Homo sapiens: one gene and its partner. The protein of the gene in region 1 interacts with the protein of each later gene in a biochemical or structural test. Each region holds a gene or a part of one and is shown on either strand. Other genes may lie near its edges.

What was found.
Region 2: the proteins of TMPO (region 1) and LMNB1 form a complex in vitro, tested with the Homo sapiens proteins (2 studies listed by BioGRID).

Annotation. Positions count from the first base shown.
Region 1 is NC_000012.12:98,510,362-98,518,589, forward strand, and holds the start of TMPO (thymopoietin), read left to right. Parts: upstream 1-5,228; 5' UTR 5,229-5,506; coding exon 5,507-5,785; exon of another isoform or gene 5,786-5,865; intron 5,866-6,059; exon of another isoform or gene 6,060-6,156; intron 6,157-8,228. UniProt on the Homo sapiens protein: May help direct the assembly of the nuclear lamina and thereby help maintain the structural organization of the nuclear envelope. Possible receptor for attachment of lamin filaments to the inner nuclear membrane.
Region 2 is NC_000005.10:126,780,059-126,787,516, reverse strand, and holds part of LMNB1 (lamin-B1), read right to left. Parts: intron 210-7,458; exon of another isoform or gene 194-209; intron 1-193. UniProt on the Homo sapiens protein: Lamins are intermediate filament proteins that assemble into a filamentous meshwork, and which constitute the major components of the nuclear lamina, a fibrous layer on the nucleoplasmic side of the inner nuclear membrane.

The DNA.
Region 1 (8,228 bases):
ACAGCCACCAAGCCAGCCTCATATTCTTAAATGTCAAAACATGATTTTTTACTACTGTGCATTATTTTGTCATATGGATATATCATAAACAACCAATTCCTTACTATTGGAGATAGAGATTTTTTATTTTTTTCACCATTATAAATGAAGCAATAAATACCTTTATAAATGAATTCCACATTTGATTTTATCTTTAGAATAAATTATCAGAAATGGCTTAAGGGAGCTAAACTTTTTTTTTTTTTGAGAGACCGAGTCTCGTTCTGTTGCCCAGGCTGGAGTGCAATGGTGCCATCTCAGCTCACTGCAACCTCCGCCTCCCGGGTTCAAGGGATTCTCCCACCTCAGCCTCCCAAGTAGCTGGGATTACAGGCGCATGCCACCAGGCACGGCTAACTTTTGTATTTTCAGTAGAGAGGGGCTTCCACCATGTTGGTCAGGCTGGTCTCGAACTCCTGATGTGATCTGCCCGCCTTGGCCTCCCCAAGTGCTGGGATTACCGGTGTGAGCCACCGCTCCTGGCCCCTCTTATTATTTTTTTTTAAGATGGAGTCTTGATCGGTCGCCCAGGCTGGAGTGCAGTGGCACGATCTCGGCTCACTGCAACCTCTGCCTCCCGGGTTCAAGCGATTCTCCTACCTCAGCCTCCCTAGTAGCTGAGATTACAGGCGCCCACCACAAGGCCCAGCTAATTTTTTAATTTCTTGGCCAGGCTGAGCTCGAACTCATGACTTCAAGTGATCCGCCCACCCCAGCCTCCCAAAGTGCTGGAATTACAGGCATGAGCCACGACGCCCGGCCGAGAACTAAACATTTTTTAAGGTTTTTAGCTTCTTACTATTTTACATCACTTAAAGTGCAACTTACCCTCCTGTTTGAGGTGACACCCTTAAATTCACAACCAATCCTCCGCAAAATGGGATAATGAAAAACAAAGCCAGCTGTATGTTAATAATATTAAGAACTTCAAAAAAAGAATGGAGGCAGTTATCCAGGTGATTTTTGTTTGTTTGTTTGTTTTGAGATGGAGTTTCGCTCGTGTTGCCCAGGCTGGAATGCAATTGCACGATCTCGGTTCACCACAACCTCCGCCTCCCGGGTTCAAGTGATTCTCCTGCCTCAGCCTCCCGTGTAGCTTGGATTACAGGCATGCGCCACCACGCCAGGCTAATTTTGTATTTTTAGTAGAGACGGGGTTTCTCCACATGGTCTCAAATTCCCGACCTCAGGTGATCTGCCTGCCTCAGCCTCCCAAAGTGCTGGGATTACAGGCGTGAGCCACCGGGCCCACCTCCAGATGATTTTTTTTTAAGTTATGGGAAAGTTTTCTGATTTAAAAAAAAAAAAAATTGCATCAGGCCAGACGCAGTGGCTCATGCCTGTAATCCCAGCAATTTGGGAGGCTGAGGCGGGTGGATTGCCTGAGGTCAGGAGTTTGAGACCAGCCTGGTCAACATGGTGAAACTCTTGTCTCTACTATATTACAAAAAAATTAGCTGGGCGTGGCAGCAGGCGCCTGTAATCCCAGCTACTTGGGAGGCTGAGGCAGAAGAATTGCTTGAACCTGGGAGGCAGAGGTTACAGTGGGCTGAGATTGTGCTACTGCACTCCAGGCTCGGCAACAGAGGGAGACTCCATTTCCAAAAAAAAAAAAAAAAAAATTTGCATCCACCAGGCACAGTGGCTCATGCCTGTAATCCCAGAACTTTGGGAGGCTGAGGCGGGTGGATCACCTGAGGTCAGGAGTTCAAGACCAGCCTGGTCAACATGGTGAAACCCAGTCTCTACTAAAATACAAACAAATTAGATGAGTGTATTAGCAGGCGCCTGTAGTCCCAGCTACTCTGGAGGCTGGGGCAAGGAGAATTGCTTGAACCTGGGAGGCGGAGGTTGCAGTGAGCCGAGACTACGTCACTGCACTCCAGCCTAGTCTCTGTTGGACATTCTGACCACAGTCAGAATATTAAGACTTCTAAAAACTCTCATTTCCCTGTGAAATTTTCTGAATTAAAATTACTTTTATCTACCAATGACCTGGAACACCCCGAGCCCCCCAACCCCCACTTTTATTAATAGTTGTCCCGCCTTTCTGGAAGGGACCAATCTACATCTTACACATATTGATTTTAGAGACAGGGTCTCACTCTGTCACCCAGGCTGGAATGCAGTGACAGGATTATGGCTCACTGCAGCCTCAACCTCCCAGGCTCAAGTGATCCTCCCACCTCAGTCTCCCTAGTAGCTAGAACTACAGGTGGGCACCATGGCTAAATTTTGTATTTTTTTGTAGAGAGGGGGTTTTACTGTTTTGCCCAGGCTAGTCTTGAACTCCTAAGCTCAAGGGATCCGCCTGTCTCAGCCTCCCAAAGTGTTGGGATTACAGGCGTGAGCCACAGTGCTCAGCCTTTGTGTTTTTTGTGTCACATTGATCAAATATTTTAAAAATTATCTTTTATGTTGAAACAAGTATTAAGGAGATGATGGAAAGAGTCAATTCCTTGAGAAGGGTGAGAGCCAGAGTACAAGTGGTGGAATTTCCTTCTGACAGGACACATCTTTCACTGAAAAGAAAAATGCAAGAGAAAATGAATGCAAATTGGAAAGTCTGACGTTGAAGCATTCCTCATAGGTGGTTTTTATTTTTTGAAGTTGAGGCAAGGTCACCAGCTAAAAATGAGAGGTAGGGAAAAAGGATGTGAAATTTGAGGAGATGTGAACGTATGAATGGTTAACCCAGAGACTGGAATAGCATTGCCAGCCAGTGTTGAGTGCTCCTGAGAGGACTGAGGTCATGAATTAAAACCAGTTAGCTTGTTATATGACTGACTTTTCTCCAGCAGCTTTTGCTGTTTGGATGTAAGCAATGAGAAAGTTCAGCTGGAGCATGGTTTAGTCCAAGCAAGGCTGAGATTCTTTCAAGCAAAAAAGGAGACATTGAGATCAGAGAGTTGAAAATGTTTGTAAAAGAGTGATGAAAAGGACTGATCAGGGAATTTAAGTCAGGTGAGTTGCAAAATTATTACATGATGGCAGAAGCAGAAGAGTTGAGTTTTTTTAAGTGTTGGGGTTAATAGCGTGGAGGTCTTAATTAGGTAAGTGAGAGTACCATAAATTAGCTGGGAAAAAAAGGCTAGTGATTGACAATTGGGAAGCTTGAAACTGAGATTTCAACTGATGACAAGGTTCAGAATCTGACTGATACCGAAGTGGTTAAGACGCAAGAGAGGAACAAATTGTTGGAGATGAAGAGGTCAGAGGTCTAAGAGGCCAAGTGTTGGTGTTGCATGGGTCACCTACAAGCATGCTGAATTCAGATAGAATGTAGACAAGAGGGATGGTGAGGAAAACCTACGGCAAGCAGCTCTATAATTTCTGGAAAGTGACCAGGAGGCTCGTGGATGATGGCAGGAAGGAGAGTAGAAAGTGATTTAGCCAGAAGATATGAACTTCAAATATTTTTGAAGCAGAAAAGAGCAGAAATGGTTTGGAAGTAGCAATCAGGACCAAAGAGACCACCCAAACTCAATAGCCCAACCTCTTAGCCTTAGGGTACGCAGAATCTGAAAAGTGTAATCTCAATTTTGGAGCTCTACAGCAGTAAATCTGCAAGTAACCACCTGTAGCTAATGTCCAGGGATTAAAAAAAAGATAATGAAAATGTTTTTGCCCAGGAAACATTAATTTCAGGCGTATCTAGAATGCAGTTCTTGCATTATACGTACTGGGTTACCAGTCATTGCAAAGTCATGGTCCTTTGCCTCTCAGCTCAGTTCCCCTTCTGAAGATAAAAACATTTGCCTATGTGTCCAGGGAAGCTGTGAGGACAAAAAACCAAGCAACTTTTACAAGGGATCATAAAAACCTACCTAACAACTTGCTAATTAAAACCTGATTTTTAATTTGCATTATTGAGCTTAATACCATTGCTTAAATGTATGTGAATACTGAGATTTTTATAAAGGAATTAGTTACCTCTAGGAAAATAATTATCACTAAAAGAAATAATATCGCAATTTGAATAAAAGTAAGTCGCTTAAATCATAGGAAACATTTTTAGTGAAGGCGTTTGTTTTAAATGTATTCTAACCTAGCAATGTAGAAAGCAGGCAAACATTTAAAAAAAATTTAACCAGTTTCTAAAACATAGTTTGGAGCTCAGATTCTGGGGAAATGATTAACACACCCTACATCCAAGGTCTCCTTTCCTTTCTAGAAAGAAAGCATCTTTAAACATACATATTCATCAGAAATACAAATATTTGTCATCAGTGATACTAATTTCCAGGCAAACATTTTAATTGCAGTCAATGTATTAGATTCTACCAGGTTTTAATTTGGATCGGTAATACGGGTTTGATTAGGGTTCTAGGCCTAATTATAGGTCACTAGTCTTCCTTTAGGATTATGCACCATCTGTTATTTTAAATTGACCATTGAGGGGGTTCCCAAGGGTTCTCCTTCGTTTTGTTATCAAACGTTAGGTTTAGGATTCTTGCGGGTGGTGGGATCCAAAGCCAGAGACGGTTTCAACAAAAATGCAAGCGCGAATTTGTCTTGCGTCTGAACGCACTGTTCAAATTAAACAATTTAGACATGCCCCAACTATGACACTAAGAAGTGAATGGTATAGTACACTTTTGTCACAAATTCAAGGGTAATTTAAGTGCCCGATTGTAGAGGTCTGGCTTCCCCTGGGTTTCTGGAACAAAAGAAGCGTTCGCGAGGAGAGGGGTAACTCCCCGCCCTCCCCCTCCCAAAGTAAATCAAATCAAGGAATATGAGTGCCTGCAGACAAGCCTCGCTTCTTTTCTTCCCCTTCAGGGCTAGCGTTTGGGGAAGGCAAGGCTGCGGCTACTCTTGGAGCTTCAGTGTCCCGGGAGGAAGAAAGGCCCAGCCAAGGGTCCTCACACTGGCGTGGAATTCGGCGCGTTCGTAGGCGATCGACCCCAGAGACGAAAGCTGCTTCTCAAGCTGGGGGAGGGAGAGGAAACGGCGCACAAAAGCAGTACGACCTGTCCCTTATCGGCGTCTAAGGGGAAGGGTGGAGAAAACGAAAACAGAAGCGGGCCGGGAGCCTCGGCTCCCGCCCCAGCGCCTTTTAAACTGCGTTTCTACCTCCTCTCGCTCAGCGCGGCGGCTAATGGAACCCGCGCGAGCCGTCTCGCCAATCACCGCCGCGCTTCCTCCCGTCGCCCGCCAATGGCGGCGCGCGTTCTTGGGGCGTGGGCGAAGCAGGCTGCTCGCCTCCTGCCTGTAGTGTGTGGGCTGGGGTTGGTGCGAGCTTCCAGCTTGGCCGCAGTTGGTTCGTAGTTCGGCTCTGGGGTCTTTTGTGTCCGGGTCTGGCTTGGCTTTGTGTCCGCGAGTTTTTGTTCCGCTCCGCAGCGCTCTTCCCGGGCAGGAGCCGTGAGGCTCGGAGGCGGCAGCGCGGTCCCCGGCCAGGAGCAAGCGCGCCGGCGTGAGCGGCGGCGGCAAAGGCTGTGGGGAGGGGGCTTCGCAGATCCCCGAGATGCCGGAGTTCCTGGAAGACCCCTCGGTCCTGACAAAAGACAAGTTGAAGAGTGAGTTGGTCGCCAACAATGTGACGCTGCCGGCCGGGGAGCAGCGCAAAGACGTGTACGTCCAGCTCTACCTGCAGCACCTCACGGCTCGCAACCGGCCGCCGCTCCCCGCCGGCACCAACAGCAAGGGGCCCCCGGACTTCTCCAGTGACGAAGAGCGCGAGCCCACCCCGGTCCTCGGCTCTGGGGCCGCCGCCGCGGGCCGGAGCCGAGCAGCCGTCGGCAGGGTAAGGACGCGGGGCCGGGGCTACAAAGGCGGGCGTTTGGCGGTTGCCGCGCGCGCTCGCCGCCGTTTGCAGCCCCTCCCTCCCGGGCGCCCCCTCGGGCCTCCCAGGTGCGGGGCTGTCCCTGCGCCCCCTCGCGTCGCCCCTTCCCCGCGGGGCTGCAGGCGCCGGAGCGGAGAGGCCAGAAGTTGGGGCCGCGGGGTTCGCGTTCTTTGACGTGTGGGTCTGGGAGGTGTGGAGTTGCGTTGGCGGCGGTTGTTTTGCACGCAGTCGACGCCGCTTCCCTGGACCACCAGCCGCCTGCAGCGGGCGTTTAGACGGGGACTTCCGTGCCCTTTCGAAAGCTCTGGAGGGGTGGCCCCAAAATGCTATAGGTTAAGTTCGAGCGTTTTCCCGCTTTATTAACTGAAATGACTCGCAGCAGAGTCTCAGAGCGCTCCCTGGAGGGCAACTGATGACACTCTAATTTCTAACCAAAATTTGAAATGAGGAAATTCCCGCCTTTTTATACTTTTGCGTGTGGAGGGCTTTTTGAACCGTTTATGTTTTCTAGTTTGTTTTAATTTTTCCCAGCAACAGGCCATCTTTTGGCGGAACAGGTTCATGCCGAATTAAAAGGAGCATTTTAAACTATATTTTTAGGCGCCTATTATAATTTTTTAGTTTTTATTTATTTATTTTTTTAGATGGAGTGTCGCACTTGTTGCCCAGGCTGGAGTGCAATGGCGAGATCTCGGCTCACCGCAACCTCCACCTCCCGGGTTCAAGCGATTCTCCTGCCTCAGCCTCCCGAGTAGCTGGGATTACAGGCATGCGCCGCCACGCCCGGCTGATTTGTGTATTTTTTAGTAGAGACGGGGTTTCTCCAAGTTGGTCAGGCTGGTCTCGAACTCCTGACCTCAGGTGGTCCTCCCGCCTCGGCCTCACAAAGTGCTGGGATAACAGGCGTGAGCCACCGGGCCCGGCCCTGCAAACAAATATTTGAAAATTGCAGTTTGGATTGCGTTTTCCCCACATATTGGTAAATTTTGCTTGAGGAAACGAAAGACTTAGGATTCAGGAAAAATTTATTTCATGACATTCTGGTGCATCAGTATTGCAATTTGGAATGTCTGATCCTGGTTAAATCTCAAATCGGCTCCAGCAAAGCATGTTTTGTTTCAGAATAGTTTGCTTTTTTACCTGTGGATTTTAATATGCTTTTTGTGGGTTTGCTTATGCCTGCCGAGTTACCAGGCTTCAAATCGTAATAGGATGAAGCTAAAACTAGTAATTGGTGTAACATAAAATGCCTTGTAAGAGACAGTGAATGTGGTGTTTGGAGTTGTTGGGAATGATCACTAGTTTAAACCGAAATTATTCCTTCCTTCAAATTTTACTTTAGTTTTTAAGGAACCTGTCTAATGTGTTTTCCCGGCTACTCAGGCAGAAATGAAAGACAAATGTAATAGACACATGTAAATTTAATTGAAAATCTTATTCTCGGCTTCAGAGAAGTTGAAAGTTTTACCAAACGTCTTCAGTCCGGTGTCTGGCACATAGTAGTGCCAAATATTTGTACAATAAATAAAAGACCAATCACACCTTATTGTTTAAACATCTTGTTTTGCGGAAAGCTTCTTTAATTTCTTAATAAACAAATTTACTTTTGAAATAAAAGCGTACCCGCTTACCCGTTATGTTTCCCTGCTCTGAAAAAGAAGGTAGTATTTAAACTCTTTAAGTAGAGTTGGTTGAGGCCGGGCGCGGTGGCTCACGCCTGTAAGCCCCGCACTTTGGGAGGCCCAGGCGGGTGGATCACCTGAGGTCAGGAGTTCTAGACCAGCCTGGCCCATATGGTGAAACCCCGTTTCTACTAAAGAAAAAAAATACAAAAATTAGCCGTGCCTGGTGGCGGCGGCCGAGGCAGGAGAATCGCTTGAACCCGGGAGGCGGAGGTTGCAGTGAGCCGAGATCGCGCCATCGCACTCCAGCCTGGGGGACAAGAGCGAGACTTCGTCTCAAAAAAAAAAAAAAAAAAAAGTTGTTTGAAAATAATATTTAAATCAGCACACTTTATAAAAAACCTAATTTTCTATAGAACCCTTCATTGGTCCTCTGTGCAAAAGTATTAAACCGTGAAGTTTTTGGTTGTATGTTTATAATAGAATTACTGGTTATTATTTTTAGGCGGGATCTCGCTTTGTTGCCCAGGCCGGAGTGCAGGGATGTGATCATAGCTTACTGCAGCCTCAAACTCTTTGGCTCACGAGAGCCTCCTGCCTCAGCTTCCCTGAGTAGCAAGGGCAACGGGGCATGCACCGCTACACCCGGCTAATTTTCTAATCTTTTTTTTTTTTTTTTTTTTTTTTGGTACACAGGCTTTCTGTGTTGTCCAGGCTGGTCTAGAACTCTTGGCCTCAAGCAATCCTGCCTCAGCCTTGGTTCCTATTTATTTTGAGGATGA
Region 2 (7,458 bases), on another chromosome or scaffold:
CACACACGTTATATATAACATATACTTCATATATAAGTAACATATACATAAAGTATATGTTATATATAACATATACATATAAGATGTATATATACACACACATACACATATATATGGCTCCAGTTATATAAATTATTTGACATTCAGGACAACTCACTCTCCATTTTCCATTTAGAAGCAAATCCCTACTTACCTCCCTGCACTTAGCTCAGATTCCCCTGGGATGTCTTTCAAAATTTCACACGGCTCCTAGCCTGCCTTAGGTAGCGGTCCTTGTTTCTCCACAGCAACACCTGGATACTGGCATCACAGCACTTAATATATTTTATTAGTATACTGCACTTACAGTATCACAATCCTGTAGTGTTGGTTTTCTGTCTTCCCCACTAGACTGTAAGTAACTTGATAATGGGGACTGAGTATCCCATTTCTCTATTCCCAGCATCTGGTTCAAGACCTGGCATATAGTACCTGTTCCACAAAAATGTGTCTTGAATAAAGAATGAAAGAACACCCTGTCATGAGTATTAAAGATTTATTTAGAGGTTTTAATTTCTTTTAAATTATTAAGGCATGGAATAAAGTTGGAAAGTAGCTTTTTAAGAAGAGAAAAAAGATAAAAGCGATCTCTTTCAGTAATTCATCTTCACCTTTCTTTAGCAAATGAAGCCCTCAGTATTTCAAACAGCTGTTTCAACTACTGACCACTACCCTTCTGACAAATCCAAAATTACCTCCCTTGAAGGCTACAAACTATCAACGTGAAAAACATGCAACTAGTAGCATTTCCAAAAGTAGCACCCAAAGGGATCTGAAAATCAACTATCCTATCTGAGACTTCAAGTACCAACCACAGATAATGATGCTCTGTGAGCCTGCTACATGTCGGTAAACCAGAGTAATACCTGTAGAACACTGTTGTATGGATGAAATAAGGTTATGTATGTGAACACCCTATCACAATGCTAGAAGTCAGGCTACCATCCTTTCTAGCTTTCATTACTTGCTAAGTAATACCAGGCAAAATACTTAAACTCTCTGAGCCTGAAGTTTCCTTACTCATCAGCAGTTATCATGAGCTTAAAAGATAATGTCTGGCCGGGAACGGTGGCTCACGCCTGTAATCCCAGCACTCTGGGAGGCCAAGGCAGGAGGATCACGAGGTCAGGAGATCGAGACCATCCTGGCTAACAGTGAAACCCCGTCTCTACTAAAAAATACAAAAAATTAGCCGGGCGTAGTGGCGGGCACCTGTAGTCCCAGCTACTTGGGAGGCTGAGGCAGGAGAATGGCGTGAACTCAAGAGATGGAGCCTGCAGTGAACCGAGATCGTGCCACTGCACTCCAGGACTCCAGCCTGGGCGACAGAGCCAGACTCTGCATCAAAAAAAAAAAAAAAAAAAAGATAATGTCTGTAAAGCATCTACTGTAATGCCTGGCAAACAGAATTGGCACAAAATAAATGTCAGCTTTTTTTTTTCCTGCATCTTTTCCCCCACCCCCCAAAGGGAGTCTTGCTTTGTCACTCAGGCTGGAGTGCAGTGGCACGATCTCGGCTCACTGCAACCTCTGCCTCCCAGGTTCAAGCAGTTCTCCTGCCTCAGCCTCCTAAGTAGCTAGAATTACAGGTGCCCACCACCATGCCCGGCTAATTTTTGTATTTTTAGTAGATACAGGGTTTTGCCATGTTGGCCAGGCTGGTCTCGAACTGCTGACCTCAGGTGATCCGCCCACCTCGGCCTCCAAAAGTGCTGGGATTGCAGGCATGAGCCGCTGGTCCCAACCTAAGGGTTGGGCCCAACCTAAGGCCCAACCAAGAATTTTCTTCTTGGTGTTTGTGTTTTCTCCTTTTCTATAATGAATATACATTTGCTGTTTAAAAAATTTAATTTTTGGCCTGGCACCGTGGCTCACACCTGTAATCCTAGCACTTTGGGAGGCTGAGGCAGGCAGATATTGCCTGAGCTCAGGAGTTCAAGACAAGCCTGGGCAACCTGGTGAAACCTCGTCTCTACTAAAATACAAAAAAAAAAAAAGAAAAAGAAAAAGAAAAAAAAAATTAGCCGACGTGGTGGCGTGTGCCTGTAGTCCCAGCTAATCAGGAGGCTGAGGCAGGAGAATTGCTTGAACACGGGAGGCAGAGGCTGTAGTGAGCTGAGATCGTGCCACTGCACTCCAGCCTGGCGACAGAGCAAGACTCAGTTATTAAAAAAAAAAAAAATTAATTTTTAGGCAGGGCACCGTGGCTCACACCTGTAATCCCAGCACTTTGGGAGGCCAAGGCGGGCGGATCACGAGGTCAGGAGATCGAGATGATCCTGGCCGACATGGTGAAACCCCGTTTCTACTAGAAATTAAAAAAAAAAAAAATTAGCCGGGCATGGTGGCGGGTGCCTGTAATCCCAGATATTTGGGAGGCTGAGGCGGCAGAATCACTTGAACCCGGGAGGCAGAGATTGCAGTGAGCCAAGGTTGTGCCACTGCACTCCAGCCTGGTGACACAGCAAGACTCCGTCTCAAAAATAATAATAATAAAATTAATTTTTAAAAATTCGGGCGGAGGGCAGTGGCTTACGCCTGTAATCCCAGCACTTTGGGAGGCTGAGGCGGGCGGATCACGAGGTCAGGAGATCGAGCCCATCCCGGCTAACACGGTGAAACCCAGCCTCTACTAAAAATATAAAAAAAAATTAGCCCGGCGTGGTGGAGGGCGCCTGTAGTTCCAGTTACTCAGGAGGCTGAGTGAGGCAGGAGAATGGCGTGAACCCGGGAGGTGGAGCTTGCAGTGAGCCGAGATGGCGCCACTGCACTCCAGCCTGGGCGACAGAGCAAAACTCCGTCTCAAAAAAAAAAAAAAATTCAAGCCAGGCACGGTGGCTCACGCCTGTAATCCCAGCACTTTGGGAGGCCGAGGCGGGTGGATCACGAGGTCAGGAGCTCAAGACCAGCCTGGGCAAGATGGTGAAACCCCATCTCTACTAAAAATACAAAAAATTAGCCGGGCGTGGTGGCACGTGCCTGTAATCCCAGCTACTCCGGAGGCTGAGGCAGAGAATTGCTTAAACCTGGAGGGGCGGAGGTTGCAGTGAGCCGAGATCGCACCACTGCACTCCAGCCTGGGCGACACAGCGAGACCCTGCCTCAAAAAAATAAAATAAAATAAAATAATAAAAATTCAAATGACAGCCGGCCAGGTGCGGTGGCTCACGCCTGTAATCCCCGCACTTTGGGAGGCCAAGGCGGGCGGATCATCCAAGGTTGGGAATTCCAGACCAGCCTGACCAACATGGAAAAACCCCAAGTCTATTAAAAAAAAAATACAAAATCAGCCGGGTGTAGTGGCGCATGCCTGTAATCCCAGCTACTTGGGAGGCTGAGGCAGGAGAATTGCTTGAACCCGGGAGGCGGAGGTTGCAGTGAGCTGAGATCGCACCACTGTACTCCAGCCTGGGCAACGAGAGCAAAACTCTGTCTCAAAAAAAAAAAAAAAAAAAAAAAAAAATCAAATGACAGCCAAAGCACAATCTCCTTATCAAAGAGGTACACTGTAAAAAGGGTTTAAAACTGATTTTAAAAACTTCCCTGATCCTAAAAATAATGGGACCTATACAGGGTCCCATTACTCAACTGATACCTGAGGCTCATTCTCAACATTTGTACATGAAAGAGACTTACACTAATGGCATAAAAAAAAAGTCTGAAGATTTCTAACTCAGACATATCAGAGGTGACACCATCTATACAAACGAAAGAATAAATATAACCAGCAACTGTGTAAAGACACAAAAAAGAAAAGACCCACCATATTTTAATAGTGCTTTATCTTTCATTCTGCCTGTTTACTTCCTTGAATCTGGGTATGCAAAATATTACCTAGTCTCATCCCCTAAGTTAAATAAACAACTCCAAAAGATCTTGCTTTATCAAACATCTTTTGAAAGCATGGGAAGGAAATGTCATGACAGTTTAATTACTTGGGACCTGCTTCCTAGACTTTTAAATCATTTTTAGGGGTTTGGTCCTTCCAAGTCTTCCCTTGAAAATTAAAGTAACATTTAACATAACTCTGTTATAAAAGAACTATGAAAAGCAGTTTAACTAGTTTTATAACTCTTATAAAGAAAACTAGTTTTATAACTCTTATATTTTAAGTTATAAAAATATAAAAGTTTGATAACTCTTATATTAAGGCCAAGATGTATACTGTCAATCTGCTTCAAATAGGGCAAAATCAGTACATTAAAAAAAGATATAGTAATACACAGGATGATGAAGGTTTGTTTTTTGTGGTTTTTTTGTTTGTTTGTTTTTGTTTTTGAGACAGAGTCTCGCTCTGTCGCCCAAGCTGGAGTGCAGTGGTACGATCTTGGCTCACTACAACCTCCACCTGCTGGGTTCAAGAGATTCTCCTGCCTCAGCCTCCCAAAGTAGCTGGGATTACAGGCGTGCACCACCACGCCCGGCTGATTTTTGTATTTTTATGGAGATGGGGTTTCACAGTGTTGGTCAGGCTGGTCTCGAACTCCTGACCTCATGACCCTCCCACCTCAGCCTCCCAAAGTGCTAGGATTACAGGCGTGAGCCACCACGCCCAGCCAAAGGTTTTTGTTTTTCAATTAATCATCCTATGTACAAAGAAAACACTCCTAAAGAAGATTAGCATGTTTTTGACCAGGCACAGTGGCTCACGCCTGTAATCCCAGCACTTTGGGAGGCAGAGGCGGGCAGATCACGAGGTCAAGAGATCAAGACCATCCTGGCCAACATGGTGAAACCTGGTCTCTACTAAAAATATAAAAATTACCTGGGCGTGGTGGCGGGTGCCTGTAATCCCAGCTACTTGGGAGGCTGAGGCAGAAGAATTGCTTGAACCCAGGAGGCAGAGGTTGCAGTGAGCTGAGATTGTGTCACTGCACTCCAGCCTGGGCAAAAGAGCGAGACTCTGTGTCAAAAAATAAATAAATAAAAACAAAAATTCACCATCTTTTATCTATACTTCCAGAGTTTGAAAACCTAAAATTTTTATTAACACATTTAGTGGCAAAACCTGACCTGAAACCAGGTCTATTTTCAATCTGTCTTTCTCCACTTGCCATGACAATATCTTTCCCTCAGAAATGTTTCATGATAGAGTGCTAACTCTATCTACCCTAACTCTATCTATAAACCCCACTGGGGGTGTCATATCCAGTATGTGCATCATATTACCGTCTTAAATTGGAATTGCTTTAACTTCCAAAGCACATCTGGCCCCCAGGGTTTTACAGAAAAGATACGGGACCTGTATCACTGAAGGAAAATAAATGTCTGAATCCACAAAATCAGTTATTGAAGACTGATGTAAACACTTAACTTTCTGTTATATCTAGTTTTCCCGTATAGTTAACAGTGAAAATCTGAAACAAGTCAATTTCTCTGTACTTTTTGTTTAAAGTGTTGAGTGATGGCATTCATCATCATTTTTGGAAACTGTTCTCTCAAAAAAGCTTTCAGCAAAATATAATCAGTCTTGGACTGAATCAAAGTAACTGTACCTTACATATGAGGTCTGTTTTCTATGGATTCAGACACCACCTGCATGGAAACTGTTGCCAAATTCTCTTTAGACCAAGCATTTCCATGCTCTGCCTCTAAGGTATCTTGTTTGCTGAGGAACCAAAAAGAAACTAAGTAACCTGGAATCTATAATTCTCTCAAAGCTGTTTTCTTAATCTAAATCTACCTAAATGATGATTATACTTAATTACAAACACTCTAGTTCCAAATAAAAAATTAAATATAGGCCAGGCATGGTGGCTCACGCCTATAATCCCAGCACCTTGGGAGGCCGAGGTGGGTGGATCACCTGAGGTCAGGAGTTGGAGACCAGCCTGGCCAACACGGTGAAACCCCGTCTCTACTAAAAATACAAAATTAGCCGGGTGTGGTGGTGCACACCTGTAATCCCAGCTACTTGGGAGGCTGGGTCAAGAGCATCGCTTGAACCTGGGAGGCGGAGGTTGCAGTGAGCCAAGCTCCGTCTCAAAAAAAAAAGAAAGACATTAACAACCCTAGATGCCAGAAGACAATAGGGCAAAATAATACTTTCCAAGTTCTGGAAAAATGTTAACCTAGTATTCTATACCTAGCCCAAAGCTATTTTCAGACATACAGGACTCAGAAAGTTTACCTCCTGCCATCCTTTCTGAATAAATTACTTAAGGATGTTCTTCAACAAAATATGAAGAAACCAAGGAAAAGGAAAATACACCCAGGATGGAGTGCGGTGGTGTGATCTCAGCTCACTGCAACCTCCGCCTCCCCGGTTCAAGCAATGCCTCCTGCCTCAGCCTCCACAGTAACTGGGATTGCAGGCGTCCACTACCACACGCGGCTAATTTGTGTATTTTTAGTAGAGACGGGGTCTCGCCATGTTGGACAGGCTAGTCTTGAACTCCTGACTTCAGGTGATCCACCTGCCTAGGCCTCTCAAAGTGCTTTACAGGTGTGAGCCACCGTGCCTGGCCAGGAAGCTGTCTTTAATAAGTTACAGGACATCAGTACACAGCCTACCTTAAGCAAAGAGAACTCTAGGGAAGAAAGCAGATTCATGTGATAGATATTATGATTAAATATCTTCAAAAAGTCTGCAAACACACTGAGGGCAAATTTTTCTTAACAAGAAAAATGAAAAGCTATTGAGGAATAAATCCATATAAAAAAAGTCCTAATTCAAATAAGGAGCAAACTAAAATGTGGCATGTTTTGAGCAAATGATGGTATGTTGGGGGGAAAAGAAGAGTCATCTAATCCTGGCAATAGGAATATACATACAGTAGCACAGACTTAAGAAAAATATAATCCCAGAACACTACTAACCCTCAGAGAATAGGTACTGTCAACTCCTCAGACAGGCCTTCCTTAATCACACTAACCCTTCACTCCGCTTTATTTTTATTCCCTTAGCATCTGCTATTACCTAAATTGTATCACATGCATTATTTCATTGATTCTAATACACATTATTCTCATTTTTTAACCCCGCTGAAACCAGCATGCATTTTAGAATCGATACATTTACAACTACTGTCAGCCAGGTGGCAGCCTTGTTACTGTGTGAAAAACCTCCTGTGGCTAACTCCTGGAAAGATTACAAAAGCGCCAGCATCAAAATGCTTCACATCAGACAAAAGACAATCTTTCTTTACTTGCTGGGATATAGCTCCCCCACTACACTCTCAGCAACAAAGAACAGTAATTCATTTTTTTAAAAAAATCTTCATATCCTCTAACATAGAACGGTGACTGGTACGCAACAGATATTTGATCTGTGTTAATTTTTTTTTTTAGACGGAGTCTCACTCTGTCACCCAGGCTGGAGTGCAGTGGACCATCTGGCTCACTGCAGCCTCTGCCTCCTGGATATCAAGCGATTCTCCTGCCTCAGCCTCCCCAGTAGCTGGGATTACAGACGCCCGC